4 linked regions of the Homo sapiens genome follow. The protein of the gene in region 2 interacts with the protein of the main gene of each other region in a pairwise test. Each region holds a gene or a part of one and is shown on either strand. Other genes may lie near its edges.

Region 1 (7,920 bases), on a different chromosome or scaffold from region 2:
GCAGTAGTGTGTGAGCAGTGGCCGGAGAGTGTGAGTGGTGGTCAGAGGGAGTGCACGGTGGCCAGAGAGCATAAGTGGTGACTGGATGGTATGAGCGGTGGCTGGACGGTGTGAGCCATGGCCGGAGGTTTTGAGTGGCACCCGAAGGGTGTGGCCGGAGGGAGTGAGCTCTGGCTGGAGGGAGTGGCCAGTGGCAGGAAGGTGTGAGCAATGGCCAGATGGTGTGAGGGGTGGTCAGAGGGAGTAAGCGGTGGCTTGAGGGAGTGAGTGGTGGCCAGAGGGTGTGAGTGGTGGCTGAAGGGTGTGGGCTGTGGCCGGAGGGAGTGAGCAGTGATCAGATATGGGACCTGGACGGAGGGTTTGAGCGGTGGCTGGAGGGTGTGGGCAGTGGCTGGAGGGTGTGGGTGGTGACTGGAGGGAATGAGCAGTGGCCACAGGATGTAAGACCTGAACGGAGGGTTGGAGTGGTGGCTGTAGTGTGTGAGCAGTGGCTGGAGGGTGTGAGTGGTCGTTGGAGGGAGTGATCCCTGACTGGAGGGACTGAGCAGTGACCGGAGGGTGTGATTGGTGGCCAGAAGGAGTTGGCGGTGGCTGGAGGGTGTGAGCGGTGTCCGGAGGGAGTGGATGGTGTCTGGAGGGTGTACCACCAAGGACGCCTTTCTGATCGTCCTGCGTCCATGCTCAGTCCTGGATCTCCTCTTCCCTTTCTGGGTGTGTGTGGCTCTGGAAGAAGCTGGCTAACCTGACGAGGTTACCGCCCTACTGTCACCATGGAAGCATAGCGCCTCAGCCACTCTCCCTGGAGGAGCCTGGCCTCACACTCCAATCATTCCCCTCTCCTTCTGGGTTAATTTGAGGAATGTGGTCCCGCTCCATGCTGTGGGTCTGTGCCTCAAGTTCCCTGGCCAGGAAAGTACCTGCCTCCTCCAATACCTGAGGACCCCAACCCCAGGGCCTCAGCTGGGTGTCCTTGTAAAGGGTCCCTGGGGTGGCAGTTGCTTTTTTGACCAGAGGCCTGGCAGGAAACGGGCTTCACCACAGCGGATCTGGGCAATGCGAGGAGAGTGAAGACTGTAAAAGTCTCCTTGCGGCTGGTAAACCCCCCAGGCTGGGGCAGGGGGGTGAGGGGTCTGCTCTGGGGCCTGGGGAAGATGGTGTGTGGAGAGGACGCCCACCTGGGCTGTGGCTGAGAGGGGGACGTGGCCTGTCCCAGGTGATCCCAGGAGGGATCCTGGAGGAGAGCCCGGATCCACTTCCTCCCAAACTCCTCCCTCCCTCCAGGGCCACCTACAGAACCCCCTCCTGCCAAGGCACAGGTCAGGGGCAGCGGGCAGGTGGGGAGCGTCAGGAGGAGACTGACTCCCCAACTGCGCGTCCCCCTTGTGGGGAATCTGGGCGGCTGCGGGGCCCCCCACTGAAAATGAGGGGCTCTCGCCAGACCGCAGGGAGGTCGGCTGGGCGCAGGAAACAAGCAATGCCTGCACAGCCACAGACGCCCCCACGGCCATAGATGCCTGCCGGAGAGGGTCTGAGGTGCGGAGTCTTCAGATGTCCTGTGGCCCAGCCACTGCGTCTTTCAGATAAGAAAACTAAGACCCAGAGCTGTGAAAATGCTGGCACAGGGTCCCCCACTGATGATGGACTGGCGCTTGCCTCTGCATTCTCTCCCTCGCCACACTGGAATTGTCTTCAACAAGTTTTTATGGATAAGGTTATGTATGGTGTGGTCTTGGGTTCCGCCCACTCTCACAGGGATAAAGCTCTTGTCCCGAGAAACGGAGAGTCCCGGGGGCAGCTCCAGCCGCTCCAACCCTAATGTGGGAGGCCAAACTCCGGCACTTGGTAGTTATCTCACAGCTCTCCCAAGGAGATAGGAGCTGGGCTTTCCAAGAAAGCAATTGCAAACATGTACAGAATGCTAGAACAACATCCGTGAATCTACGCTGCCCCTCATTAATGGATGCTAACCTTTTTACCTTATTTCCCTCAGATTTTCTTCAACAAAAGAAAACATTACGGAGACATCGAAGGCCCCTTTGCGCCCTACCCCGCCACCTTTTCCTGCTTCCTCCTTCCTAGACAGACCCATCATGCTGAAGTCAGTGTCTCGTTCCTGTCTACACTGTCATCATTTTGTTCATCTGGATGCAGTTCCAACAGTATATCACATTGTTTCACATAGTTTGGAAATCTACATTATAAATGATATCCTACTTTACAAACCATTTTAACGGATTTTTTCACTTCGCTTTGTTTTCAATATTTCTCATTATTTATTCATTTTCATCTTCTGAAAGATACTCACATACATACATATATAATATATGTAAAGTATAATACATGTATGCAATTAGTTCTCTATATTCATGGGTTCTACATCCATGGATTCCAGTAATGTCAGATCAAAACTGTTTTAAAATCCAGCTGGGCACAGTGGCTCACACTTGTAATCCCAGCACTTTGGGAGGCTGAGGCGGGTGCATCACCTGAGGTCAGGAGTTCGAGACCAGCCTGGCCAACATGGTGAAGCCCTGTCTCTACTAAAAACACAAAAATTAGCTGGGCGTGGTGGCACATGCCTGTAATCCCAGCTACTCAGGAGGCTGAGGCAGGAGAATCACTTAAACCTGGGAGGTGGAGGTTGCAGTAAGCTGAGATCATGCCACCGCACTCCAGCCTGGGCGACAGAGCAAGACTCTGTCTCAAAAAAAAAAAGTATTTTAAAATCTTATTTACAACATCTTAAAGATCAAAACTTGGGTGTGCCGCAAGTCAAGTACTATGTAGAATCTGCAGAATGAAATGAGGTGTAGGTATTGCATCAGGTATTATAACTAACCTAGAGATGGTTAAAGTGTAGGAGAGGATGCACGTGGTTTCTGCGCACTATGTCATTTTATACCAGGGACTTGAGCATTTGTGGATTTTGGCATCCCTGGGTGGGGGGTCCTGAAACCAGTCCCCCAGGGGTACTAAGGGACGACTGCATTGTATTTTAAGTTCATTTTCCCTTTCCCTGGTTAATGAATATTTATTTTGCTTTTCTTTCCCTCCTTTCCTTCCTTCCTTCTTTCCCTGTTTCCAGCTGTTACAAACAATGCTAAAAAGAATATCTTTGCCTGTGTTTTCTTCTGCCCAAGTATGAACATGTTTCTGGGATTAAGAGACCAGGCCTGGAAACAGAAGAATTTGCTGAGCTGTAAAATCTGTATGGCTTAAACCTCACCGAACACTGCCCACCTTTTCTCCAAATGATTGTGCAATTTACATCCCATTTCCAAGAGCCCCCATTTTGATCCGAGAAATTAGAGCAGCGAAAACCACCGTCACTATGAGCACCACCCTGGGCCTGGTGCCCCCGTCCTGTTTTCAATAAACTTAAGCTGACCACAGAGGACACCAGGCCTCGGCCCCTCCCTGGGTCCTGCGGTCAGGCCCCTCCTGGAGACCCTGGCCCAGGAGTGGAGACCCCGGTGCAGGAGTGGCAGCCCTGGAGGAGGGGCTGGGTCCTGGGATGGAGCGAAGAGGAACATGGCCGCCCCCATTCTGGCCCAGGCTCCCCTCCCAGAGGGGCTGCAGAAATGTACTGACTAGGTCACCCAAGAAAAGATAGTACCTTTGTTAGGCTAGCATGCATTTTCCTCAGGGCCTAATTTCTCACTGAAGAAGAAAAGATTTCTCCTGTTGTCCATTTCTTCATGCAGCTCTTCAACAGCTGTTTCTCGAATGCCAATCAAAGCCACTGTTCTAGGGTCTGGGGCCACCTCAAGGCACTAGGAGATGAGGACTTCTGCTCCCATGCGCCCTCCCGTCTGCTGCAGGGAGGAGTGCAATGAATAAATAACCAACATAATGTGTCAGTCACTTGTTTTATCCACCAGGAGGTAATAAGAGCTATGAAAGAGAAAGCTCCGAGCAGGGGAGGGGAGTGAGGCATGGTACAGGAGAGCAGGAGGCTGTCCTCTAAAATACAGGAGTCCAGGGGACCAACTGGGAAGGTGTGGGAGGGGGAGGGAGGGAGCCCCATAGACACAGGGGAGTGAACCACGTTCACTTTGTCAGTTTTTGATGGCAGCTCGTATATACTATTTTTTTCTCCCTCCTGCCCCCAGCCCCTCCCAGAAGGAGACTTAATCTGTCGCTCAGGCTGGAGTGCAGTAGGGTGATCTCGACTCACTGCAACCTCCGCCTCCCAGGTTCAAGTGATTCTCCTGACTTAACCTCCAGAGTAGCTAGGATTACAGGCACCCGCCACCATGCCTGGCTAATTTTTGTATTTTTTTTTTTTGTAGAGACGGGGTTTCGCCATGTTGGCCAGGCTAGTCTCAAACTCCTGACTTTAAGTGATCCGCCTGCTTTGGCCTCCCAAAGTGTTGGGATTACAGGCGTGAGCCACTGCGCCAGGCCTACAATTTCATTATTAAAACAATTCCACTGTAAAAGAATTAGCTTAGGCCTAGACGGAATGGGCTTCATGAGCTCCTTCCCTTCCCCCTGCAAGGTCACGGTGGCCACCCCGTGAGCCACTGTTGTCACGGCCAAGCCTTTTTCCGGCCATCTCTCACTATGAATCACTTCTGCAGTGAGTACAGTATTTACCCTGGCGGGAGGGCCTCTCAGATATGAGTAGGACCTGGATTAAGGTCAGGTTGGAGGAGACTCCCATGGGAAAGAGGGACTTTCTGAATCTCAGATCCCTCAGCCAAGATGACCTCACCACATGTCGTCTCTGTCTATCAGCAAATCCTTCCATGTAGCTTGACCATGTCTAGGAAACACCTTTGATAAAAATCAGTGGAGATTATTGTCTCAGAGGATCCCCGGGCCTCCTTAGGCAAATGTTATCTAACGCTCTTTAAGCAAACAGAGCCTGCCCTATAAAATCCGGGGCTCGGGCGGCCTCTCATCCCTGACTCGGGGTCGCCTTTGGAGCAGAGAGGAGGCAATGGCCACCATGGAGAACAAGGTGATCTGCGCCCTGGTCCTGGTGTCCATGCTGGCCCTCGGCACCCTGGCCGAGGCCCAGACAGGTAAGGCGTGCTTCTTCCTGCTCTGTGGGGCCACAGCCAGCTCTGGCAGCCTCCGCCAGGAGCCACTGTTTTACATACATATTTTTGAGCACCTGTTTTGTGCCAGGTGCTGTTCTAGGCCCTTAAAAGTATATCCAATTTACAGGATCGGCAAAAGCAGGTGGAGAGTAACTCAGGGTGGCAGGGCCCCCGGAGACCTTCGAGAAGTGCGACGAGGAGGGGGCTGCCTTCAGTCGGGGCTGTTTTCCTGTGTTAGGAAGACTATACAATCCTCCCAAGTGTCATGTTTCAAAGAGGAAGTGTTGGCGTGGGGTCTCAGAATAGTGCTTTTGACTGTTCATGCCAACATCTCCCCCAGGGGCAGACCCTCCCAAGGCCCATCCAGATAGGCCCAAATGCCGGTCCCAGTGATGGCCACCTGGGAGACCCTCTCCCACAGGCCCGAATGCCCGTCCCAGTGGTGGCCAACTGGGAGACCCTCTCCTACAGGTTCCTGGGCTCCCCTGGGATCCATGCTCTGGGAGTCAAAGCCACCTCTCTCATGAGTGCGTGGCTGGCAACCCATATTCCCTGGTGTTGTCAAGTGGATCGGTTGCCCTGGGTCCTTCTAGGGAGTGGAGGAGGAGGCCATTCTTGCTTCCTTGGGAAGTGTTTGCATCTCAACTCCTTTACCTGCAGAATGGATCAACGGTCTGCCCTAGGGCTGTCAGGAAATGCTGTGTGGCAGCATCTGCGACTTGCACTTTGCCAGCTGTGGGGAGCTGAATAACTTATTTGCCGTTATTAGGTACAGTTTCAAGGTGGGGGCAGGAGAAAGGGCTTTCTACGTTTCCAAAGCAAGGGTTTCCAGAGAGGCCTGAAGAGGGAGCGCCCAGTGGTGCTGTCCGTGCCCCCACTGCCCTCCAGCCACCTCTTGATCTCTGCTGTGGGGTACCGGGCCTGAGGGGTGGGCTTGGGCAGCGTAGAAGAGCAGCCAGCATTGGGCTGCAGTGGGAAGACCCCCAAGCCCATGGCAGGGAGCGGGGGAGCTTTGGAACCCGAGAGAGGAAGTGGCCTCGGTGTACAGAACGAACTGGGTGGGTCCCCGTGCTGGCCACCCCCAGGCCCATCTGCCTGCGCCCTTGCCCCCACCCCAGCCCCCAGCTCTGCCCCCTGTGCTGTGGGATCACAGAGGCCGTGGCAAACTCCCCTCCCCACCCCACACACCCTCTGGCTCAAGGCTCAGAGCGTCTTTGCGGGTCACTCAGGTCCATGATCCTGTTACAACTGAAATCTAGAAAATTGTGATTACAGTTTAGTGCATTCGTGTGTGGAAACCATTTCCATTTATTTCCATCATGCGACAAAGACAAAGCGGGTGGGCAAGACAGAGTCTGCCGGAGGCAGAGCACCGGGGCTGGAAATCTTCCTCCCTGAGGAGGAAACCCCCCCGACCCCCAGGATGATGATCCTCCCTCACCACGGGGCCTCTCTTGACCCCCACAGTGTCCCGGGGGTGGGCGATGATCACCTTCACGTCGCGATGGATCCAGACCCCAGGAGGGCAAGGTTCCCATGGAAGCTGCTGGGCAGCGGGAGCTGAACACGGATCCTTCCCAGCAAGCCAGGAACACTTTCTCCAAAGACATCTCGAGGCAGTCCCTGATAGCAAAGCAGACAAGAGAACAGCCCCTCTCGGCCTCCCCTGGGGCGCCCTCACCTGAGCCAGTGTGGCCAGACTGAGTTCCTCCCCTCCTATGCCCCAAGGCAGGGACAGGGACCGGAGGGTGCTCTGGGCTCCTCTTTCACCCCCTGCTGCAGGCTGTCAACCACCAGATCCTAATAGGTTGCTTTCTGAGACCTTTGATTCCGCGGAGCTCAGAGCCTGAAGCTCTGGTGTTAGAACCTCTTGCATAAGATCCTGCGGCAGCCCCCAGCCAGCCCCATCTGTCCACGTGTCTTCCTCCTCTAGATCCCTTTCCTCACTGCCCTGCTTCAAGCTGTTTCACAGCTTGTACCCTCTGTCGGCTCCTCCTAGACCACCCCACCCGGTCCTCTCACCTTACCTGCAATGGGTTTCCACCTCCTGAACACACCTGGGTCTCTGGAATGGCCTTTGCCCATGCGGCTCCATCTTCACCTGGTGAACCTCCTCCTGCAGGGAGCCCCCCTGCTTTGTTCAACCTGCTTGTCATTGGCCTCTCCGGGGAGTGCCCTACCCCCGTGGTTACCCTGGGCACCCTGGGACGATGGCCTTGCGTTGTCTCGCACATGTTCTTGCCTTTCTCCTCCATCAGATCCTTAGACTCTTTTTTTTTTTTTTTTGAGATGGAGTCTTGCTCTGTCACTCAGGCTGGAGTGCAATGGTGCGATCTTGGCTCACTACAACCTCTGCCTCCTGGGTTCAAGTGATTCTCCTGCCTCAGCCTCCCAAGTAGCTGGGATTACAGACGTGTGCCACAATGCCCGCCTAATTTTTTGTATTTTTAGTAGAGATGGGGCTTCACCATTTTGGTCAGGCTGGTCTTGAACTCCTGACCTCAAGTGATTCACCTCCTTCAGCCTCCCAAAGTGCTGGGATTACAGGCATGAGCCTGGGCCCAGATATTTAGACTCTTATTAATGACTTCTCTGGTTTTAATTTCTGGGTCTCTCTCACCTGGCACAGTGCCTGGCTTTTGCCATGCTAGCTCCCACTTCTCATGCACACAAATGGTGCTCAGTAAATATTTATGTATTGAGTAAAATTTAATAATCATTTGTTGAAATTAAAAAGTGAATAAATAAGTTACCTAGAAAGATGCAAAGTCCACAAACCTGGGGCACCTTGCATTTTCCCTGAGCGTAATGTTTGCACATCAGGATGTGAGGACCACGTCTCCCTCTCATGTCCTGAGGGTTTTATATCCGC
Region 2 (7,660 bases):
CGGAACAGAACAAGTCCTCAGAAATAACACCACACATCTACAATCATGTGATCTTTGACAAACCTGTTGAAAAACAAGCAGTGGGGAAAGGATTCCCTATTTAATAAATGGTGTTAGAAAATTGGCTGGCCATATGCAGAAAACTGAAACTGGATTCCTTCCTTATACCTTATTACAAAAATTAACTCAAGATGGATTAAAGACTTAAACATAAAACCTAAAACCATAAAAACCCTAAAAGAAAACCTAGGTAATACTATTCAGGACATAGGCATGGGCAAAGACTTCATGACTAAAACACCAAAAGCAATGGCAACAAAAGCCAAAATAGACAAATGGGATCTAGTTAAACTAAAGAGCTTCTGCACAGCAAAAGAAATGATCATCAGAGTGCACAGGTAACCTACAGAATGCGAGAACATTTTTGCAATCTATCCATCTGACAAAGGGCTAATATCCAGAATCTACAAAGAAGTTAAACAAATCTACAAGAAAAAAAAATCTGATCAAAAAGTGGGTGAAGGATATGAACAGACACCTCTCAAAAGAACACATTTATATGGCCAACAAACATGAAAAAAAGCTCATTATCACTGGTCATTAGAGAAATGTAAATCAAAACCACAATGAGATACCATCTTGTGCCAGTGAGAATGGTGATCATTAAAAAGTCAGGAAATGACAGATGCTGGAGAGGATGTGAAGAAATAGGAATGCTTTTAGCCTGTTGGTAGGAGTGTAAATTAGTTCAACCATTGTGGAAGACAGTGTGGCGATTCCTCAAGGATCTAGAACAAGAAACACCATTTGACTCAGCAATCCCATTACTGTATATACCCAAAGGATTACAAATCATTCTACTATAAAGACACATGTACACATATGTTTATTGTGACACTGTTCACAATAGCAAAGACTTGGAACCAACCCAAATGCCCATCAATGATAGGCTGGATAAAGAAAATGTGGCACATATATACTATGGAATACTATGCAGCCATAAAAAAGGATGAGTTCATGTCCTTTGCAGAGACATGGGTGAAGCTGGACACCATCATTCTCAGCAAACTAACACAAGAACAGAAAACCAAACAGTGCATGTTCTCACTCATAAGTGGGAGTTGAACAATGAGAACACATGGACACAGGGAGGGGAACATCACACACCAGGGCCTGTCGGAGGGTAGGGAGCTAGGGGAGGGAGGGGTAGCATTAGGAGAATTACATAATGTTGATGATAGTTTGATGGGTGCAGCAAACCACCATGGCACATATATACCTAAACCTGCACTTCCTGCACATGTATCCCAGAACTTAAAATATAATAATAATAATAATAAAGGGGTATTGAAATTCCCCAGTATTTTTGTTTTGCTATGTTTTCCTCATGTCCACTAATATTTGCTTTATATGTTTACACACCTTGATGTTGGTTGCATATTTATAATTGTTACAGTCTGATTAACTTATTTGCTTATTATTACTTAAAGACAATCTTAGTCTCTTGTAACAGTTTTTGACTTCTGGCCTACTTTATCTGACATAAATATAGTCACCCCTGCTTTCTTTTTTTACCGTTTGCATGAAAAAATTCTTTCTTTTCACTTTATTTTTGTCCTTAAGCTTGATCTAGTCTGCCATTGAAGCTCTCTATTGTATTTTTTCATTTCCTTCATTGAATAATCTAATGGCAAGACATCTGTTTAATTTTTCTTGATGTCTATTTCTTTGCTGAATTTCTAATTTATACCATGATTTTTTTTTCCTGATTTCTTTCAATAGTCTATCTATATTATCTTGAATCTTGCTGACTTTTTATTTTTTATTTATTTTTTATTTTTTTAATTATACTTTAAGTTTTATGGTACATGTGCACAACGTGCAGGTTTGTTACATATGTATACATGTGCCATGTTGGTGTGCTGCACCCAGTAACTCGTCATTTAACATTAGGTATATCTCCTAATGCTATCCCTCCCCCCTCCCCCCACCCCACAACAGGCCCCGGTGTGTGATGTTCCCCTTCCTGTGTCCACATGTTCTCATTGTTTGATTCCCACCTATGAGTGAGAACATGCAGTGTTTGGTTTTTTGTCCTTGCGATAGTTTACTGAGAATGATGATTTCTAATTTCATCCATGTCCCTACAAAGGACATGAACTCATCATTTTTTATGGCTTCATAGTATTCCATGGTGTATATGTGCCACATTTTCTTAATCCAGTCTATCATTGTTGGACATTTGGGTTGGTTCCAAGTCTTTGCTATTGTGAATAGTGTCGCAATAAACATACGTGTGCATGTGTCTTTATAGCAGCATGTTTTATAATCCTTTGGGTATGTGCCCAGGAATGGGATGGCTGGGTCAAATGGTATTTCTAGTTCAAATCTTGCTGACTTTTAAAAATGTTATATTATTATTATTATTATTATTATTATTATTATTATTTTGAGATGGAGTCTCACTCTGTCAACCAGGCTGGAGTGCAGTGGCACGATCTCGGCTCACTGCAACCTCCACCTCTCAGATTCAAGTGATTTTCCTGCCTCAGCCTTTTTGGGGAGAGTCATGTTTCTTTGCTTTTTCATGTTTCTTGTGTCCCTGTGTTGATATATGTGCATCTGGTAGAACATTTGCCTCTCCTAACTTATAAAGTAGCTTTTCTAAGAAAAAACTTTCACTTGTTGATAGGTCCTCGGGTGCTGAGTAGGGTGTATCGGCTCTGCTTCTGGCTGGCACAGTAGCGTAGTCTCTGTGAAGCTTCTCAGCTATAATCAATGTCAGTGACAAGTGGATGCCTCAGTGGCCCGTACTGCAGTAATTTGTGGGAGTGGTGGTAGCAAAGTAGATTACACTGAGCTCAGGCACCAAGAGAGCACAACTACTCCACCAGCTCAGGTACAGCTTCCCTCGGGTGGGATGCAGGGCTGGTTTGTGTGCTGAGGGAATAAGACCAGTGTTCTGGCTTGGGCATAGCTTTTCTGGAGGTGGGGCACCAGGCCGCTTTATGTGCCAAGGGAGCACAGCTGCTCCACCATCTCAGACATTGCTTTCCTGGGGCTGAGTCTGGGGCCCCCAGTTAGTGTGCACACAAGGGGGTATTGTTGCCATTCTATTGCGCATGCTTCTCTGGGGTCAAGGTGCTTGGCTCATGCTTGAGAGGGTACAACTGCTTCACCAGGCCAGGCTTGGCTTCCTTGCTGGGTTGGACTGTTTGGTCCTTGGGGGCCAGAGCAGCCTGTAGGTTCAGAAGCCTGGGTCATGACCGTTCCACTGGGCCTAGGCCTAGGCTTCGAATGGCCATGGGTGGGGCATAGCTGCCACTGGAATGGAGAGGATACTGTGCCTTCTCAGCAGCTTCATAAAAAGGTATTTTGGTCTATATATCCTTGGTAAATCTGTATTTCTGAGACAGCATGAGATCAATAATTTTCTATTCTACTCTCTTGCTTACAACATTCAACAACTCATTTCCTTTTTTTTTTTATCACAGAGTAATATTCCATTGTATAGATGTACCATAGTTTGTGTATACATTCTATGTATCATTATTGAATGATATCTGGTTGCAAACATTTTTGGCAATTATGAATAAAGCTGCTATAAACATTCATGTGCAATTTTTCATGTGGACATATGTTTTCAAGTCATTTAGGTGAATAAAAAGCAGTGCAGTTGCTGGATTAGGTGATAAAAGTATGTTTAATTTTGCAGGAAATTGCTGAACTGTCTTCTAGAACAACCGTACCGTCTTGCATTCCTGTCAGCAATCAGTGAGAATTCCTGTTGCTCCGCATCCTCACCAGCATTTGGTGTTGTCAGTGTTCTAGATTTTAGACTAAATGCAGTGTTTTCATTTTGTCCTATTCTAGATGCTAACTTTTATTGTGATTTAGTCTCGTGAGTTGTTTTAAATTGTTACATAAGAATTTCTTAGTGTATAGAGTTTCCTATGTTTTTGAATTACTTTTTAATTTTAATTGCATTATGATTAGAGTATGTTTATTTTGATGGTTATCTGTGGAAATTTTCATTCTGATCTAGTTAAGTGGTGACTTTGTGAGTTTCCGTGTGCTTAAAAAGACTGCAAATCTCTCATTGTGGCTGCCCTGGAACTTAGTTTATATAATAAATAAGTTTCCTCATGTCTGAACCTGCCCAGGCACCTTTCCCAATGTATCAGATGTTTAACACTAAGGATCTGTTTTGTTCTGGAAAGTTATTTTTATCTGGCCTCATGATTACAGTCCTGGCCCTGAACTTCAGAGAATGGAGGGGTAAGCAAAAGGACCTCAGACTGTGCCAGGAAATGTCAAGTCACCTGCTGTAGGCTACTACTAATGGAGCATGGCCTATTTACTTGGACACCAAACTATCCAGTGCTAACATGAGGTTTTTCAGGACTAGATCCCATGGCCATACAGCCCTGCCTGCCAGATTGGACGTGAAAAGTATTTCCGCATCTGACATTCCTGTTTCACCCACACAGGGCATCGTTTTGCCCAGGACAAAGTTCACCTCCAATCTTATCCACACTATTTCTATCTTTGCTTCCTTGATAAGATATAGACATTTATGCAGTGGTTCAAAGTCTAGAGTCCCTACACTTCTGGTACATGACAGCTGTGTCTCGATGGAGTAGACTCTCAGAACAGCGCAGTTTGCCCTCCGCTCACGCAGAGCCTCTCCGTGGCTTCCGCACCTTGAGCATTAGGCCAGTTCTCCTCTTCTCTCTAATCCATCCGTCACCTCTCCTGTCATCCGTTTCCATGCCGTGAGGTCCATTCACAGAACACATCCATGGCTCTCATGCTCAGTTTGGTTCTGAGTCTCCTCAAGCTGGGATCAGGTAAGACTCATCTTTGTTTCCTCCTTACTAACTAACAGTTTGAGTTCTTTAGCTACAATGGTTGCAGCATAATGGAATGAAGGCATCTTTGTCGTTTCCATTCCTTTGGCTTCTCCTAGCCTCAGCCTGGGGAAGGATCAGGCGCTGTGGAAACAATTATAGTAGCCCCCAAATAATGGAAACACGGGTGTTGAAGACGCACCGTGATCGTTGACGGGGACACACCTAACGTGTTAAGGTGAATAAATTCAGTGTTTCTCCCAGATGGGCTGAGTGGTGTAGGCAGGGTTATTGGAGCACCAAGGTTGCTGACATGGATGTCCATCTGGGAAGAGACACAGTTAGGATTTTTGGGGAAAAGACAATGTATCCAGCTAAAGACATGCTGAGTTAGAAATGTCTGTGGTATGAGACACGAGGGTGGAGGAAGGTGTACAGGTCTTGAGGTGAGAAATTAGCTGAAACCTGGCATATTCTGGGAAGAAATCCACTCTTCTTTCTCCTTCCAGTTACTGTTAACACAGAACCTAGTATATAGGATGTTGAGTGACTGAATACAATTCACAGAGGAAGCTTGAGGTTGGGGTAGAATGCTGGTGGCTAGATGGTCAGTACCCAGCCACAGAAGATTCGATTGACTGTGTTCACTTTCTGTCTGTGAAGGTTCATCCTGCCACCTGTCCACCTATATCTTTTTTGCTAAATGAAGCTAAGAAAACAGAAATAAGGGCAATCAAAACATAGAGCATGTTTCCTTAAAACAAAAACCCATATGTGTTACTAACAGGAGACGCTCTCGTTTCAGTTTGTTTTCATTTATTTTCTGACGAGCTTCTTTGTTTCCCTTCTGTTTCCGGGTGAGGCAGCAGGACATCCTGGAAATGATCTTGGAGACAGAAACATTTTATTTTTAAAAACTCTTATTTCATTTTCTTGTGAGCTTTATTGTTCACAGCTTCCTTAGGTGTTGGTTTGCTTATGATGACATGGAGATACGATCACATTCCTGCTGGGGCTGTGGTGAGGACTGCATGAGCTTGTGCATGTAGAGTGCACACAGCTGCACGGGTGCATGGCATGTTGCAGCAACAGTCTTGTTCCTTTCTTATTTTCAAGGGAAGGAAGTGGAAGGAGTGAAAGGAGATGTTATAGGCAAGAGAGGTGACAGCAGCAAGGGCTGGCCGGAGAAATGGAGGTACCCTGAAAAATGTTTCCTTGCCTCAAGAGCCCCACACAGCCCTGAAGGCAGCATCCATAGCAGCCCAGCTGGCATACGCTGGGTCCCCAAACCTGACCTAAGACAAGGGCCTTCCTGCCAGTGATTCGTTGAGCAGGTGATTCTGGGAAACAAAGTGAGGGAGTGGAGAGAGTGAAGCCAGTAGGGGGAAAGCCATAGAGGGTGCGCTAATGAGCGTTGCTGCGGTGGCAACTGGGACCCAGTCCCACTGGGACCTTTGGAGGAACTTTATAGATGGTGGCTCAGAGTCATTCCAACATCTACTGTCTCCTTTCCCCACTGGGTGAGATGTGCCGCCCAGGACTGCTAAAATCGCAAACCTTCTGAGCTGCCTTGTGCCAGGGCTAAGTAGGTTCCAAGGGTGGCAGGAAGCCCTCAGCAGAGAGGCAGAGGCCAGGCTCCAGGGACGGAGCTGTCAGCAGGCAGGGAAATGCCCATCCCACTGCAGGGGGACTCAGGGTTGGGTGGTGAGGAGCAGGGCCTCAACATCTGCTACACCAGGTCAGAAGCTGGTCAGACACCAGGCTGCAAAGTCATGCCTCATTTAATAATACTCTTAAAGATGCATGAGTGAAATACATTTCAGCAAGATTTATAAAATGTAATTAAACTAAAAAATTAGTGCTAAAATGAAAAAGTATCCACTGATCTAGAAATTCACACATGTAATTCACCTTCCCTCTGATGCACATGCAGACAGCACACACAGGTATATCCATATACCATAAATGGATACATGTGAATGAATCAAGAGACACTGCCAGTCAAAGGGGGTGGGTACTTAGAAGGTGAAGGGAGTGGGCCTCCATAGTCTGTGGTCTCTAAGAAGCAGTGTAATCCTTACAGGGTAGTAAGAGTGATTTACACCAGGAAAATTACTCAAATGATTGTTAAACAGATGAGCAAGTAAGAAAGGAAATGGGGCTCACCGTTCACATGCATAACTGTGGAGCCTGTTCTGTGTGACTGGCTCTGTGCTGATCAAGTGGGTACTATGCTGAGCAAGAAAATCAGGCCCTGTCCCCAGAGAGCCAAGAGCTGTGCAGGGGAGGCTCACAGAAAACATGTAATTGTCACACTTGAAGCAAGACAATGAAGAAAGTTTCAAAAGCGAGGTGAGGACATACATGTACCAAGAATTTTTTTTAAAAAAAATGAAGGCAAGACATGTTGACAAAGCACTAGGCGAACCACCTTTCAGTGCTAAAATAAAGTGGAAAAAATTACTACACAAGCGTAAAAGGCACATGCTATGGAAAATATAAGTCACACGTGAACGTGCTAAAGAACAAATTTACAGAAAACAGACTGCAAAATCTTGTTTCAGTGTCACAGCATGTCTTTCAGAACTTGGCAGAACAAGCAGATTTTCAAAAAAAACTAAGGAAGTACAAATAATTGTGTGCGCCATGGGCAGAAATGTAACATTCCTCTATAGTAGCCATAAAATATTGATATAATATTGTGCTTGAAGGAAACCTTAACGAATTGCCGCAAACTGGAGACTTTATGGCCCATACTCTTCTCTGGGCCATTAGAAAGACGTCAACTTTGGTTTTCAGCAAGGACGATG
Region 3 (7,043 bases), on a different chromosome or scaffold from region 2:
TCCACCCCTGAATTTGCAACTCAGAACATACTACTCTGACGGAATTCTTCATAATCTGACTACTCCTCACCTTTCTCTCCTCCCACCACACTAACAAGATTTCTAAGCTCTGACTCCATCAATTTCACCCTTTTCACTTATTATCTATAATAAATATGTATTATATTTATATAACATTTATATATTTATGTATTATAATAGTTATATGATTATATATATATATTTTTTCTGGGTCTTTTACAAAAGTGATTTAACTTTTTGAGTCTTTTTTTAAACTAAGTTTATTTTCCTTGTTGCCAAGTTGATATAACTACAGAGCTACTAGCTTTGCATGAATGTAATTAGATTAGGAATATAATTTGTCAATTTGGAAATAGAAATATTATCAAAGTTGGTCATAGTAACATTAATTTTGTGTAATTGACAGGATATTGTAGTGATTGCAGTTAAGGAATATAGAGTATGGGACAAAAAGAAAAGGTAAAAGGTTTTCACCTTCAGAAGGTGTTCTTGGTGATGTCTCTAATCTAGGTTAAATTAGATAGAAAGGATCTCATTTCTCGAAGGTGGTGTCTAGGACAGACCTGGATAGCCATGGAGAAGACATCCCACCTGAAACAGAAGTATTAAAGCAAGGAAGCTGCAAGTGTACATTTGCCTATCTCAGGTTTGTATCTTAATCTCTTATCACTTGGGAATTAGTGGTTTGAACTCTAAATGGTAAGCAGCAATGTGCAATGACAGACTCTAAGATTCCAAGATCGAGGACTAAGGAAAAACAAGCCCCCATTCGTTACTCAATTTTAAAATGAGCCTCTGAGGGGACATTTAACAGTATTTACAGAGAGAAAAAATCTGAATCTGCAGTTATTATAACAAGCTGCACCTGCTAACTGCATTCTAGTCTCCAACAGAAAAAGATGCAATACAGTACATTATCTCTGAGACCTGCTGGAAATGAATATCCAGAGAAAAGCAAGCTTCTAAGGGTGAAGCCTATGCTGAAGAAAGAGAAATATGCATTTTACTGAAGATGGTGCAGTAAAAGGGGCCTGCAAATATATACTGGAAACTTTAGTTGGGGCTAAATTAGAAGGATTTTGAACATATAAACACTACAACTGAATACCAAGGAAAGGTGTGTACATGTTATAAAGATAGTATTGTGTTAGAAAGGAGAACCTAAAGTTATAATAAGCCAGAATAGCAGGATTTTTCTGGTGGCATATGTTTATAGCCCCAGTTAAACGGAATGGACTTGGATCCTCATTTTCTTTTCTAGGAGAGTCAGGTCAGAGTCCTAGATAGGGAATACCTAATAGCTAGTCTCATCTGACAGAAGAATAAGGAGGAAGGAATTTCTCTTGAATAGGCAATTGGTCTTCCCAGAAATTAAGTCAGGAAGCAACTGGCTCTTGGATAGCCCCTGGGTCGCTGCTATGCAGATACTTGGAAAAGGGGTATTCATTCCTACTAGGCAGGGGAAAAGTTTGCATGCCTGCAGTCAGAAGTCAGTTAGACAGACATTCAAAGCCTCAAAGAGAATGCTGGTTATGTAACTCAGAACAAACTCTCCACTCCTAGGCAAGTCTCTGGGAATTTAGAGTTGACATGACAACCTCAGGAGGAAAAACACCTTGTTTAATGCTGTACTACGTGACCTACACCGGTCACTGACCAGAGCAAGGAGAAGCCACCCAGAATCACTGGTTAATGATCAAAATATTAAGCTATGGTCTATTTTAAGCACCTGGAGGAAAACTCAACACAGGAATTGGTTTCTTTCCCAGCTCAGGCCAACTGATAGAACATGCTGGTGGGCCACACGCCAAAAGTAGGCAGAGCCTTCATTCATGGATTTATTTAAGAGCCACCAAACTTTCAGGCTACTCAATATGATTATATAGGAAATCATTTGTCTTTTACATCTATATTCTGAAATAATAATATTTATTAAACACTTTCTACATACCAGGCACTTTGCTAAGCACTTTAATAAATTTCATTTAATCTTCACAGCAATACTAGTCTACCCCCATTTTACAGATTAGGAAACTGGCTCTGAGAAAAATATACAACTGGTTAATGATGAAGCAGGTAAATGCACCAAGGATTACTTGACTCTAGAGACTATGATCTTGACCACTACACTTTATTGCATCTTTTGATTAAAATATGCTTATAATGGGATATGACACCAATTTGCCATTCTGGACAGAAATTATTTCCTCCAAGTTTCTAGGAAATGGGAAGCTCAAGTTTGTTTTGTCAGGTACCAGTAACACAAAAAAACCTAAATTACCTGTTCATATTTTTTTCTATTATCCAAAGTCCCAAACAATAGAAACCCAATGAGAATTGAATCTTAACTTTTTGAATCTTGTTTTAGTTATTAAAAAATGACATAAACTTAATGATTCTTCCCTGAGACAGTGGAAATATCTAGGAGACTTCTAAGTTTCTTGTATTAGAATTCAAAGATCACGATTCTTCTGCTAGATAACCACTACTACGGTCCTTTTGTTTCCACCACAGAATGGAACGCAGTGCATCTTGGAGCAGCTAATAAAACTCTGTAGTGTAACTAGATGAACAATTACAAGTAAGAATACACTCTTAGAGATTTTTTTAAAGTTCGCAGATAATTTTCAAAACAAACATTGCTCATCCCTCTTTCACTGTCTTACCAGAATGTTAGGTATTTTCCTCATTTTTGCTAAGTTCTTTTATTTGAAATATATCAGCATGTTCCTTCAAGACAACCTTTTACTAAGTATTTGTTTGGTGCATATGCACAATACATAGTATATGCACTAAATCAATTTAAAAGATCAGTCACTAATTTTTTCCTAACGGGAAAATAAAGTGTCAACTAAAAACCACCCATATTTGATTTATTCATGCCCACTTTTAAGTTCTAGGTATAAACAACTTAGAAAGAAATCCTTACCTTACTTAGAAATTCATACCGTCTAGTCAAATGCTAAGTAGTCCATAAGAATAAACATTGAATTCAGCTATGAGTTTCTCAGAGAGTAAAGTCCAAGGTACGTTTGATTTGCTACCTATGACAGACCAAGGAAATCACATCATCACCAAGGACTCCCTCCTTCAAACTAAGCCCCACCCAGATCTGAGTCAGTACAGATCTGAAAAGTCCAGGAATTAGAAGATGCAGTTTCAGACAACATATTGAAACAGCTAAGCATTGAGCTGTGGGAGCAGTGGACTCTGGTTTCCATGCTATGGTGTCAGCTTCACCATCAACATGATACAGGCAACCTCCTGAGGTTGGACTGCCTGTGACCTGTCTAGCTTGCTGCAGAGTTGTAAAGAAAATTGTGTAGCTGGTTGCAGTGGGTGCCAATAGTTCTGTGAGAAAGAACCATAACCCTACACAAAGTTCATCTGCACCTACAATTCCCATTACAGTTCTGGTCGCTAGAACACCCAAGCTTAAACTCAACTTCAGAGAAATAAAGACCTCTCTGAATTCCACATGGAAAGTTGGGCAGTGCCCAGCCTCTATGCTGTCATATCATTTAATCTCTCTCTCCCTCAGTGTCACATGCATGGCATGCATGCACATACAACAGATGCTAAGAGTCATGCTTTACTCACTATTGTATCCCAAACAACTACCACTTACTTACTAGCACATAGTAGCTGGTCAATATCTGTTTGCTGAGTGCATGGGAGCAAAAGTTACAAAGTGAACAAAAATTACCTTAGGAGGACAATAAACAGGACCCTTCTGTCTGGAACAAAGGATGCCATCCAAGCCTTGGCACAGCACACAAATCCCCTGATCATATAATCATAGGGCCCTGTCTAGCTTTATAGCCTTTCGGCATTACTCACCACATCAACGTTAACCTCCTGCCACACATGCACACTCAGGGGAGAGGGCAAAGTACATTTGGGGAACTCCCCCTCCTCTTCCCCATCTCTTCCTTGACTTCCTTCTTCTCTAGTCAGAGTCATCCATAGTGAGCCTTCTGCTGCCCACTGGAAACTGGGTTGAAAGCGCCAGGGCTCTTCCTAGAATCCCCAAAGTCACCCACGCCAACGTTTTCTTTTTTGTTTGTTTTTGTTTTTCGTTTTTTTTTTTTTTTTTTTTTTTGAGACAGAGTCTCTTTCTGTCGCCCAGGCTGGAGTGCAGTGGCACGATCTCGGCTAACTGCAAGCTCTGTCTCCCAGGTTCACGCCATTCTCCTGCCTCAGCCTCCCGAGTAGCTGGGACTTTCAACCCAGTTTCCAGTGGGCAGCAGAAGGCTCACTATGGATGACTCTGACTAGAGAAGAAGGAAGTCAAGGAAGAGATGGGGAAGAGGAGGGGGAGTTCCCCAAATGTACCTTGCCCTCTCCCCTGAGTGTGCATGTGTGGCAGGAGGTTAAAGTTGATGTGGTCAGTAATGTCCAAAGGCTATAAAGCTAGACAGGGCCCTATGATTATATGATCAGGGGATTTGTGTGCTGTGCCAAAGGCGCCCGCCACCACGCCTGGCTAATTTTTTTGTATTTTTAGTAGAGATAGGGTTTTGCTGGGGTTCCTGGTTTAGCCAGGATGGTCTCAATCTCCTAACCTCGTGATCCGCCCGCCTCGGCCTCCCAAAGTGCTGGGATTACAGGTGTGAGCCACCGCGCCCGGCCGCCAACTTTTATCATTAATAAGATCTATTATGAAATGAAATCAAAATCAAACTGGGACTTAAAAGATGCAGGCAATCCCTGCTTTCACCTCTGAATCTCCATGGCCATGTAGTTAATGGTACATCACACCACTGTAATATTAGTTTAGGGAAATAGCAGAGCTCCTAAAGCATACACATGAGGAGAGCAGACTCTCACGGAATTTGAAAATAGAAGAATTACATATTTTTTGAAGATTTTTGAAGTTTTAGGAAGAAATGCCGTATGCATACAAACATACCTGTTATGCAGAGATTGTTCAAGCTGAAGGTAAAAATAGAATCACGGTTTTAAATAATATCAATGGCTGAGGAAGGAAAGAACAATTTCTCTGAGATTTATGTCACAGAGAAAGTGGCTATGATATGTATGCCATTATTGAAGACTAGATCAACAGTTTTAGGTTACAAACCTTTCCCTTGCAACATATTCTTCATTTCAGGAAGGGGTACCTGAAAGGAAGTAGGATGAACCATTAGGACCCTATATTAGGGGAACCTGTAGGGCCACTGCTTGCAAGAGCTCAACTGTTAGGCTTTGGGATCTGTTACCATTTCAACACCACTTTTGGTTCTCTTCTGCAAAGTGCCTCCACGATGTCTTCAAGTGACTGGGAGAAGAAACGGCATATGAAATATGGTTAATCCTGATTATATCTATGCACATGTACCTACACTAAGGCTCAGGGGAGAATTTAATGTTGGCATTGAACATTTATTAAGTTGGCAAATGTTCTGAGGAAGTAAAAAGTATAACTGTCATGTAACTTGAGGATGTGAGAGCAGCTACCGGTTGCATCCTCAGATCAAATAGGGCTGAAATTAGTCATCCAACTGGAGTCTTTCAGTTGTCGAAATACTGCAGAAGAAAGTGAATTTAAACTCTAAAGCTGAGAGGTGGACAGACATGGCTAAAATGTAGATCTTAAATTGGTCTGACAGGGAGATAAGGAATTACGGTCCTCATATATTAGGCATTTACTGAATCAGTTCAATCAATATTTATTTCCAGCAAAAAAGTCTCCTAATATTTCAGCTATTAAAAACCTTGAGGTGTTAAACTCACATATTCATTTTCCAAGATGCTAAGTGTGGTGCCTGTCATCATTTGTGCATGTCATGCCTTCCTGGCCCATTGTTGCTGTGAAAGGACATAAAGTAATTTAGGCCTAGGCATTAAAGTGGAATTGGAAGATCAAGAGAGGACTGCACTCATACCTGCTAAATGTTAAGCCACAGAAGGTTCCAACAGACTTGGATAACACCTTAAGTCAGAATCCACTGGACTTCAACATCTCTCAGCTGGGAGTACCCTAATTAACTAACAATTCAGAACAGCTCTGCAATTTAGGATTTCTGTCCAGCCAGTGAATTGCCCCTCAAAACAACTTTTTCAAGAAATCTCCTATTAAAAACCTGAACTTGCCTTAAAGGACACTATTTAGTGTTGCCCTAATTCAGTGTACCTGAATTGCAATTCTTTTTTTCCCAAATATACTCTACTTTCTTTGGCATCTGTGTTGATTTTTTTCTTAGTTAATGTAACAACAGAACTGCCACATCAGTGCAGGGACTTCCTGAGGCCTTCTAGATGCTCTCTGTGATCTATTCTTAGTTCTCTGTTTTCCTGGTATTGCTTCATATTCAGGTCTAGAATAGCATCAACCACCTTCAGTTTTGCAGTGAGTTAGCTTTTAAATTGCTTCAAAGTGCTTTCACAACTCTCTTAATGATCATTCTGGGAAACAGCCAGGGTAAGTGATCCTCCTGCTTCATTTAGGATGAAGAAACAGGTGCTAAGAGTGAACAAATGATACACCTAATGAATAAGTGTCAAAGTTGGGCATTACATTAAACATCTGCCATACTCCTCTCACATCCCCTTGGCTCACCTTTTTGTCCTGGACATTGTTGAGGCAACAGGCTCTACACAGGTGCCCTTACCAGCACTTCATCCCAGCTGTACTATGCGTCTGTCTTGCTTGTTATCCCAGGGATTCTCTGCTTTCTAGTGAGACTCCTAAAACAGAGAAAATAAAAACCCTCCAGTGTTAATTTTAGCCTATGGAGGTCAGGCTGTTCCCCTGTTTTCTCTCTGGTTGACAATCCTGAAGTGTCTTCTATGTGGTTCCTTAAAGCATCCCCACCAAGACTAAGCCCCAGTTACCCACAGGCATAGCCAGCTGAACAGCACACTCTTGGATTAGCTCTCCCTCCTTCCTGTTTTACTCTTCTCAAGGGCCCCTCCCCTGTTCCCTGGATTCACTTCCCAAAATAAAATACTTGCTTTTCTCTTGCAAATTTAAGTTCCTTATAGATGGTGGATATTAGACCTTTGTCAGATTCATAGTT
Region 4 (7,971 bases), on a different chromosome or scaffold from region 2:
ACCTCGTCTCTAATTTTTAAAAAACAAAACAGAACAAAAAAAAAAAAAAACATAGCTGGGACCAATGGATGGCTTGGGTGGAAGACAGATTTAGACTCTTCAAAAATGCTTTTAAAAATGCAGTAAACTCTCCTCCCACTCTTTGATCTGGACAATTAACATTTTCTCAGTCTTATATAAGCTCAACTTTTTTTTTTTTTTGAGACAGAGTCTCACTCTGTTGCCCAGGCTGGAGCGCAGTGGCACCATCTTGACTCACCACAGCCTCCACCTTCCAGGCTCAACTGATCCTCCTGCCTCAGCCTCCTGAGTAGCTGAACTATAGGCACACACCACCATGCCCAGCTAATTTTTGTAGTTTTGGTAGAGACAGGGTTTCACCATGTTGTCCAGGCTCGTCTTGAACTCCTGACCTCAAGTGACTGCCTGCTTCAGCCTCCCAAAGTGCCGGGATTACAGGTGTGAGTCACTGTGCCCCGCCATATAAACTCAACTTTAAGACAAGACCTAAACTACCTTTCCAACCAAATAGCCATCCCTAAGTTTTTTTTATCTAGGAATGCTAGAGCTTTTGTGGCCAGTAAACATGAAAAAGATGCTCAACTTCACAAGTAATGAGGCAACTGCAAATTAAAACAACACTGAGATATCATTTTTCACTCATCAGATTGGTACAAAGTTTAAAAATGATTGGCCAGGCATGGTGGCTCATGCCTGTAATCCCAGCAATTTGGGAGGCTGAGGCAGGCAGATCTCTTGAGTCCAGGAGTTCGAGACCAGCCTGGGCAAATGGTGAAACCCTGTCTCTACTAAAAATACAAAAATTAGCTGGGCATGATGGTGCGTACCTGTATGGCACTACTCAGGAGGCTGAGGTGGGAGGATCAATTGAGCTTGGAAGGTCGAGGCTGCGGAAAGCTAAGATCGCACCACTGCACTCCAGCCTGGGCGACAGAGCAGAGACTCTGTCTCAAAGAAAGAAAGAAAAAAAAAAACCCTAAATAAAATTTAAAAGTAAAAGTGATTATATCCACCACTGGGGAGTGGGTGGGGAAACTCACCCACCGTTGGTGACTGATAGGATACGATCAGCCTTGTTGGGAGGGCAACTTAGCAGGGTCTGTAACAATTTAAATGTGTATGCCCTATGACCTTGCAATTTCAATTCTAGAATTTCATTCTACAGAGATGCTTTCAAGCTCTCATGCATCCACAAAGGACGTTGTGTACAAGGATGTTTATTGTAGCATTGTTTATATTGCCCCCAAAAAGCAGGGCAATAAATAAGGATGGTTAAACGAATCATGGCTGAGTCTTAAAATACCATGCAGCTGTTGAAAAAGAGGAGCTAAGGCTGGTGTGGTAGCTCATGCCTGTAACCCCAGCACTTTGGGAGGCAGAGGCAGGAGGATCACGAGGTCAAGAGTTCAAGAACAGCCTGGCCAACATGATGACACCCCGTCTCTACCAAAAAACAATACAAAAATTACCCAGGCATGGTGGCACGTGCCTGTAATCCCAGCTACTCGGGAGGCTGAGGCAGGAGGATCCCTTGAACCCAGGAGGCGGAGGTTGCAGTGAGCCGAGATTGTGCCACTGTACTCCAGCCTGGGCAACAAGAGTGAAACTCTGTCTCAAAAACAAACAAACAAAAAAAGATAACGAATATAAAGTGACTGTTGATAACGGCTGCTTCTGGATAGGAAGGGGAGAAGAATTGGAGGAGGATTGTAACAGAACTTTTACATTTTATACAGTAACAACCACCACCTTGGCTATCACTTACGGATGGTTTACCATATGCCTGGCACTGTGACGAGGAGCAGGGATTGTCTCATTTGATCTGCACACTAGCCTACCAGGTAGGTGCTTTTATTAGCCCACTTCACAGATGAAATAAATTACAGTGTCTCACGCCTGTAATCCCAGCACTTTGGGAGGCCAAGGTGGGCGGATCACGAGGTCAGGAGATCGAGACCATCCTGGCTAACGATGTGAAACCCCGTCTCTACAAAAAATACAAAACATTAGCCAGGCTTGGTGGCACACGCCTGTAGTCCCAGCTACTCGGGAGGCTGAGGCAGGAGAATCACTTGAACCTGGGAGGCAGAGGTTGCAGTGAGCCGAGATTGCACCACTGACTCCAGCCTGGGCGACAGACTGAGACTCCATCTCAAAAAAAAAAAGAAAGAAAGAAAGAAAGAAAGAAATTAAGGTCAAACTGGGTATGTCATGAGCTCAGGCTGCTGGCTAGTAACTAGTAGAACCAGAGGTTAGACCACTTCCCAATGTATATTTCTAGTGTTGCTTGAATTATTTCACAATAATTCTGTGGGTTTTTTTATTTTGTTTTATTTTTTTAAGAAACGAGGTATCACTATGTTGTTCAGGCTGGTCTCAAACTCCTGAGCTCAAGCAATCCTACCCCATTAGCCTTCCAAAGTGCTGCGATTACAGGCCGGAGGCACCACACCCAGCCTGTGTGTTGGCTTTCTAGTTAAAACACAACAACCATAAAACAACAATAACAAGGAAAGTTAGAAAACTTTCATTGTGAAAACAAATTTCATTATTTTTCTCACTGAGTCTCAGAAAAAAATGCTGCAATCCCCTCCCTAAAATCATTTTATTTTAAATGATAGATAATTGAAAAGACTGTTCTTTGGTTGTTCATAAAAGCTCAGAAACACTTTTGAATGGACGCTTATGTTGCAATCAGACTGTCTCACCACTTCAGTGAAAATGGTTTCAATAAGAAAGAAGTAAATGAAACTTACCATTTGTTTTCATTGCCTCACAATCCAATACAGCTTTTCTACCTGAAACAGAAAAGGAACACGATAAAGCTCACTTTCCACATGACACGTTGGCTTGGAGGTTCGAGCCTCAGAATGATAAGGGGGGCTTACAAGTGACAGAAGAAAATATGCTCCAGAAGAGGAGCCTGTTCAAATGGCTCCACATTCTCCCAGTTGAAGTCCAAGACGGGGTCAGAAGGCATAGTAGAACCACAGTGGTGAGTAACTCGGAGAACTTCCTCTTTTTCTTAGCCAAGTTAAGGAAATCAGAGGGTTTGGATGAGGTTTGCATAATACTGGTTTGTTCGACCAATCTGTCTTCCTCTGTGAGTTCCTGTAAGAAGAGAGATATTTGGTAGATTGCCACTCCCCCGCCCCCCCCACCCCCCCACACCCCCACATCGTCCCATGCTGGCTGGGAAAGAGAAGAGGTAAATCTGACTGTTACATTGTCTATGTAAACCCATCTGATCTCCTTGCTCTGGACTCAGTCTATGCCAAAAGGAGTTTGGTGGAAGTTTGATTTAGTCTTTGGAAGCAAACCGACTGTCTTAAGCAGATACATACAAATATTGTATCAAAAATGCCTGCTTTTTTTTTTTGAGACTGGCCTCACTCTGTCACCCAGGTTGGAGTGGAGTGCTGTGATCATAGCTCATTGCAGCCTCAAACTCCTGGGCTCAAGTGCTCGTCCCACCTCAGGCTCCTGAGTAGCTGGGACCACAGGTGTGCACCATCAGGACTGGCTAATTATTTTTATTTGTAAAGACAGGGGTCTAGTTGCCCAGGCTGGTGTTAAACTCCTGAGCTCAAGTGATCCTCCCGCCTCAGCCTCCCAAAGTGCTGGGATTACAGGTGTGAGCTACTGTGCCTGGCCAAAAATGCCTGCTTTTGTTAAACGTTGATTCCTAGACCCCACTCCAGACTTACTGGGTTTCAAGTCCAGGACGCTGATTTTTTTTTTTTTAAACAAGGGCCCTGAGCAATTCTTACGCACAGTGAAGGCTGAGAAATATCTGTACAAGGTGCTGCTGCCTCAGTGATTTCTGAATCAAGGGAGCCTTGGGGACTTGATATTACGGCAAGCCCTCCAGTGCCAGGAGATCTGAAGTAGGAGTTACCTTAGATCAGCCTTTGAAATAGAACGTGCAGGCTGGGTGCGGTGGCTCATGCCTGTAATCCTAGCACTTCGGAAGGCTGAGGCAGGCGGATCACCCGAGGTCAGGAGTTTGACACCAGCCTGGCCAACACAGCGAAATCCCATCACTAGTAAAAATACAAAAAACTTAACTGGGTGTGGTGATGCGTGCCTATAATTCCAGCTACTTGAGGGGCTGAGGCAGAAGAATCGTTTGAACCCGGGAGGTGGAGGTTGCAGTGAGCCAAGATTGCACCACTGCACTCCAGCCTGGGTGATAGAGCAAAACTCTGTCTCAAAAAAAAAAAAAAAAAGTCAGTTGAAATAGAATGTGCAGAGCCACTTCTTGATGGAGTGGAGATCACCAAAAGGATAGAAAGGTATGACTATAGGGCTAGGTGGGCAAGACAGCTGGTTGACACTTGCAAGAATTGACAGGTCCACCAAGAGAGGAAGCAAGGAGTTGAATGGCTGGGGCAGCCTTGAGCTGGGACATTCATCTCTGTACCTTAGGTCCCAAGATGTAACCAAATCCTTCCTTATTGACTCAGCGTCACCTAGCTAGCATCCTCTAGCTAGGAGGTTTGATACTGAATCTTGCTCTGTCTCCCAAGCTAGAGCACAGTGGCACCATCTTGGCTCACTGCAATCTCCACTTACCAGAATCAAACTATCTTTCCACCTCAGCCTCTCTAGTAGCTGGGACCACAGGCACAAACCACCATACACTACTAGGTTTTTAACTTTTTTATAGAGATGAAGTCTCACTATATTGCCCAGGCTGGTTTTGAACTCCTGGGCTCAAGCGATTCTCCTGCGTGTGGCCTCCAAAAGTGCTAGGATTACAAGCATGAACCACCATGCCCCACCCTTACTACAACAACTTTACAGCACTTTATAAAAGTTTGGATGGGTGAACTGTCAGATACATGTGCAAAATTCCATCAACTTTTTCTTTTCTTCACGTCTGCAATGTTTTTCATCAGCATCCTGTCACTTTTTGGCTACCACTGCTGGCCAGCTGGAAAAGAACAGACAACCATAGAATCATTCCCCGCACCCACATTTTCTTTCTCTCTCTTTTTTTTTTTTTTTTTTTGAGATGGAGTCTCGCTCTGTTGCCCAGGCTGGAGTGCAGTGGCGCTATCTCGGCTCACTGAAACCTCCACCTCCTGGGTTCAAGGGATTCTCCTGCCTCACCCTCCCAAGTAACTGGGATTACAGGTACGTGCCACCACACCTGGCTAAATTGTGTATTTTTAGTAGAGACGGGATTTCACCCCATTGGCCAGGCTGGTCTCGAACTCCTGACCTCAGGTGATCTGCCTGCCTCGGCCTCCCGAAGTTGTGGGATTACAGGCGTGAGCCACTACCCCCGGCTCCACATTTTCATATAGACCCATGGAAATGGTTTCTCTATCAGATCCAGTACAAATTGCAGACAAGTCTGGCAATGGAAAAAATATATATTGGCAACTTCTAGTATTTTCAAACTGGAGTAATAGCTGCAGTGGCGCCATCTCGGGCCACTGCAACCTCCACAGTTCCCAGGTTCCCAAGTAGCTGGGATTACAGGCACTTGCCACCACGCCCAGCTAATTTTTTTAATTTTTACTAGAGATGAGGTTTCGCCATGTTGACCAGGCTGGTCTCAAATTCCTGATCTCAAGTGATCTACCCACCTCAGTCTCCCAAAGTGCTGAGACTACAGGCATGAGCCACTGCACCTGGCCTCACACATTCTATTTCAAAGGCTGATCTGAGTTTACTCCTACCTCAGTTCTCCTGGCACTGGAGGGCTTGCCATAATAACAAGACTTCAAGGCTGCCTTGATTCAGAACTGCACTTTTGAAAGACACTGTCTCAAAAAAAAAAAAAAAAGAATTTTTAATGGTGATGTAGAAGAACATTTCATGATGTGGTAAGAGAATCACAATATACTTAAGAAAAGAGAAAAGGTATTATTAACAGTTGTAATAACATAAATCATTTTTCTAAATAAGAAAGTGCATAATTTGTATACATAGAAAAACTATCTGGAGGCCGGGCACAGTGGCTCATGCCTGTATTCTCAGCACTTTGGGAGACTCATAATGAGACTTTGTCTCTAAATTAAAAAAGGAAAAGAAAGGAAAGGAAGAAAGAAAGAAAGAGAAAAACTATCTGGAAGGATATTTTCTCAAAATGTTAACAATAGCTATATCTGGAGAGTAGAATGTTATTTTTATTTTTTTTATTATTATACTTTAAGTTCTAGGGTACATGTGCACAATGTGCAGGTTTGATACATAGGTATACATGTGCCATGTTGGTTTGCTGCACCCATAAACTCATCATTTACATTAGGTATTTCTCCTAATGCTATCCCTTCCCTAACCCCCAACCCCCCGACATGCCCCAGTGTGTGATGTTCCCCTCCCTGTATCCAAGTGATCTCATTGTTCAATTCCCACCTATGAGTGAGAACATGTGGTGTTTGGTTTTCTGTCCTTGTGATAGTTTGCTGAGAATGATGGTTTCCAGCTTCATCCATGTCCCTGCAAAGGACATGAACTCATCCTTCTTTATGGCTGCATAGTATTCCATGGTGTATATGTGCCACATTTTCTTAATCCAGTCTATCATTGATGGACATTTGGGTGGGTTCCAAGTCTTTGCTATTGTGAATAGTGCCACAATAAACATACGTGTGCATATGTCTTTACAGTAACATGATTTATAATCCTTTGGGTATATACCCAGTAATGGGATTGCTGAGTCAAATGATATTTCTAGTTCTAGATCCTTGAAGAATCACCACACTGACTTCCACAATGGTTGAACTAATTTACACTCCCACCAACAGTGTAAAAGCGTTCCTATTTCTCCACATTCTCTCCAGCTTTTATTTTCTTATTCTAGCTCCTCTTTCTTTTTTTTCGAGATGAAATCTTGCTCTTGTCCCCCAAGCTAGAGTGCAACGGCATGATCTTGGCTCACTATAACCTCTGCCTCCTGGGTTCAAGCAATTCTCCTGCCTCAGCCTCCCAAGTAGCTGGGACTACAGGTGCCTGCCACCACGCCTGGCTAATTTTTGTATTTTTAGTAGAGACGGGGTTTCACCATGTTGGCCAGGCTGTTCTCGAACTCCTCAGGTGATCCGCCCTCCTTGGCCTCCCAAAGTGCTGGGATCACAGGCATGAGCCACTGCGCCTGGCCGCTCCTCTTTCAATTATTTCTTTCTGCATTAATATTCCTATTATGGAGAAGGAGGAAAGATGGGATAATGGCAGACCTTGACAACACCTTTCCTTGGTCCTCCATAAGGAGAAAGAGCCTCCTCTAAGCCTGGTAGTATGGTGCACTGAGTGAGGACAGGAGGTTGGGACATTTCCCAGAGGCTTGGGTTCAAAACCACTGAGGTATTGAGAAAGATAAAGTAACTTTTACATGAAAGATAAAAACAAGATCCTTTCCTCAAAAGACCTACCTGGAGCCCATACTTGCCCTCAGGCAACCCATAGGCTTGCAACAACAGTGTCTATTTTTTTTTTTTTGAGACAGAGTTTCACTTTTGTCGCCCAGGCTGGAGTGGAATAGTGTAATCTCGGCCTACTGCAACCTCCGCCTCCCCGCCTCCCCAGTTCAAGCGATTTTCCTGCCTCAGCCTCCCAAGTAACTGGGATTACAGGCATGCACTACCATGCCTGGCTTATTTCTTATTTTTAATTGAGATGGGGTTTCACCATGTTGGCCAGGCTGGTTTCGAACTCCTGACCTCAGGTGATCCCCCTGCCTCGGCCTCCCAAAGTGCTAGGATTACAGGCGTGAGCCACCACGCCTGGCCAGTGTCTATTTCCTTAAGAAAAAAATATGTGTTTTTTTCCTTAAGAAAAAAAATTATAAAAATCGAAACAGCATACAAAATCCAAAGAAAATATCCAATAGGCATGAATATAATTCATTTCCGCTTGTCCCTGCCCCCAGGAATGTCTTTAGCACCCCGTCCCCTGCATACATTCTTTGTTGGGTATAGCATGCATTGTTAGAAGCAG

The links.
Region 1: the proteins of BTNL8 (region 2) and TFF1 interact in binary tests that used the Homo sapiens proteins (3 or more experiments, as listed by UniProt).
Region 3: the proteins of BTNL8 (region 2) and HHLA2 interact in binary tests that used the Homo sapiens proteins (3 or more experiments, as listed by UniProt).
Region 4: the proteins of BTNL8 (region 2) and MILR1 interact in binary tests that used the Homo sapiens proteins (3 or more experiments, as listed by UniProt).

Annotation. Positions count from the first base shown.
Region 1 is NC_000021.9:42,363,521-42,371,440, reverse strand, and holds the start of TFF1 (trefoil factor 1 precursor), read left to right. Parts: upstream 1-4,905; 5' UTR 4,906-4,945; coding exon 4,946-5,030; intron 5,031-6,328; exon of another isoform or gene 6,329-7,920. UniProt on the Homo sapiens protein: Stabilizer of the mucous gel overlying the gastrointestinal mucosa that provides a physical barrier against various noxious agents. May inhibit the growth of calcium oxalate crystals in urine.
Region 2 is NC_000005.10:180,894,510-180,902,169, forward strand, and holds the start of BTNL8 (butyrophilin-like protein 8 isoform 2 precursor), read left to right. Parts: upstream 1-4,649; 5' UTR 4,650-4,801; coding exon 4,802-4,850; intron 4,851-7,660.
Region 3 is NC_000003.12:108,292,507-108,299,549, reverse strand, and holds the start of HHLA2 (HERV-H LTR-associating protein 2 isoform a precursor), read right to left. Parts: upstream 3,003-7,043; 5' UTR 2,951-3,002; exon of another isoform or gene 496-2,950; intron 1-495. UniProt on the Homo sapiens protein: Through interaction with TMIGD2, costimulates T-cells in the context of TCR-mediated activation. Enhances T-cell proliferation and cytokine production via an AKT-dependent signaling cascade.
Region 4 is NC_000017.11:64,444,162-64,452,132, reverse strand, and holds the start of MILR1 (allergin-1 isoform Allergin-1L precursor), read right to left. Parts: upstream 3,019-7,971; 5' UTR 2,965-3,018; coding exon 2,910-2,964; intron 2,820-2,909; coding exon 2,778-2,819; intron 1-2,777. UniProt on the Homo sapiens protein: Immunoglobulin-like receptor which plays an inhibitory role in degranulation of mast cells. Negatively regulates IgE-mediated mast cell activation and suppresses the type I immediate hypersensitivity reaction.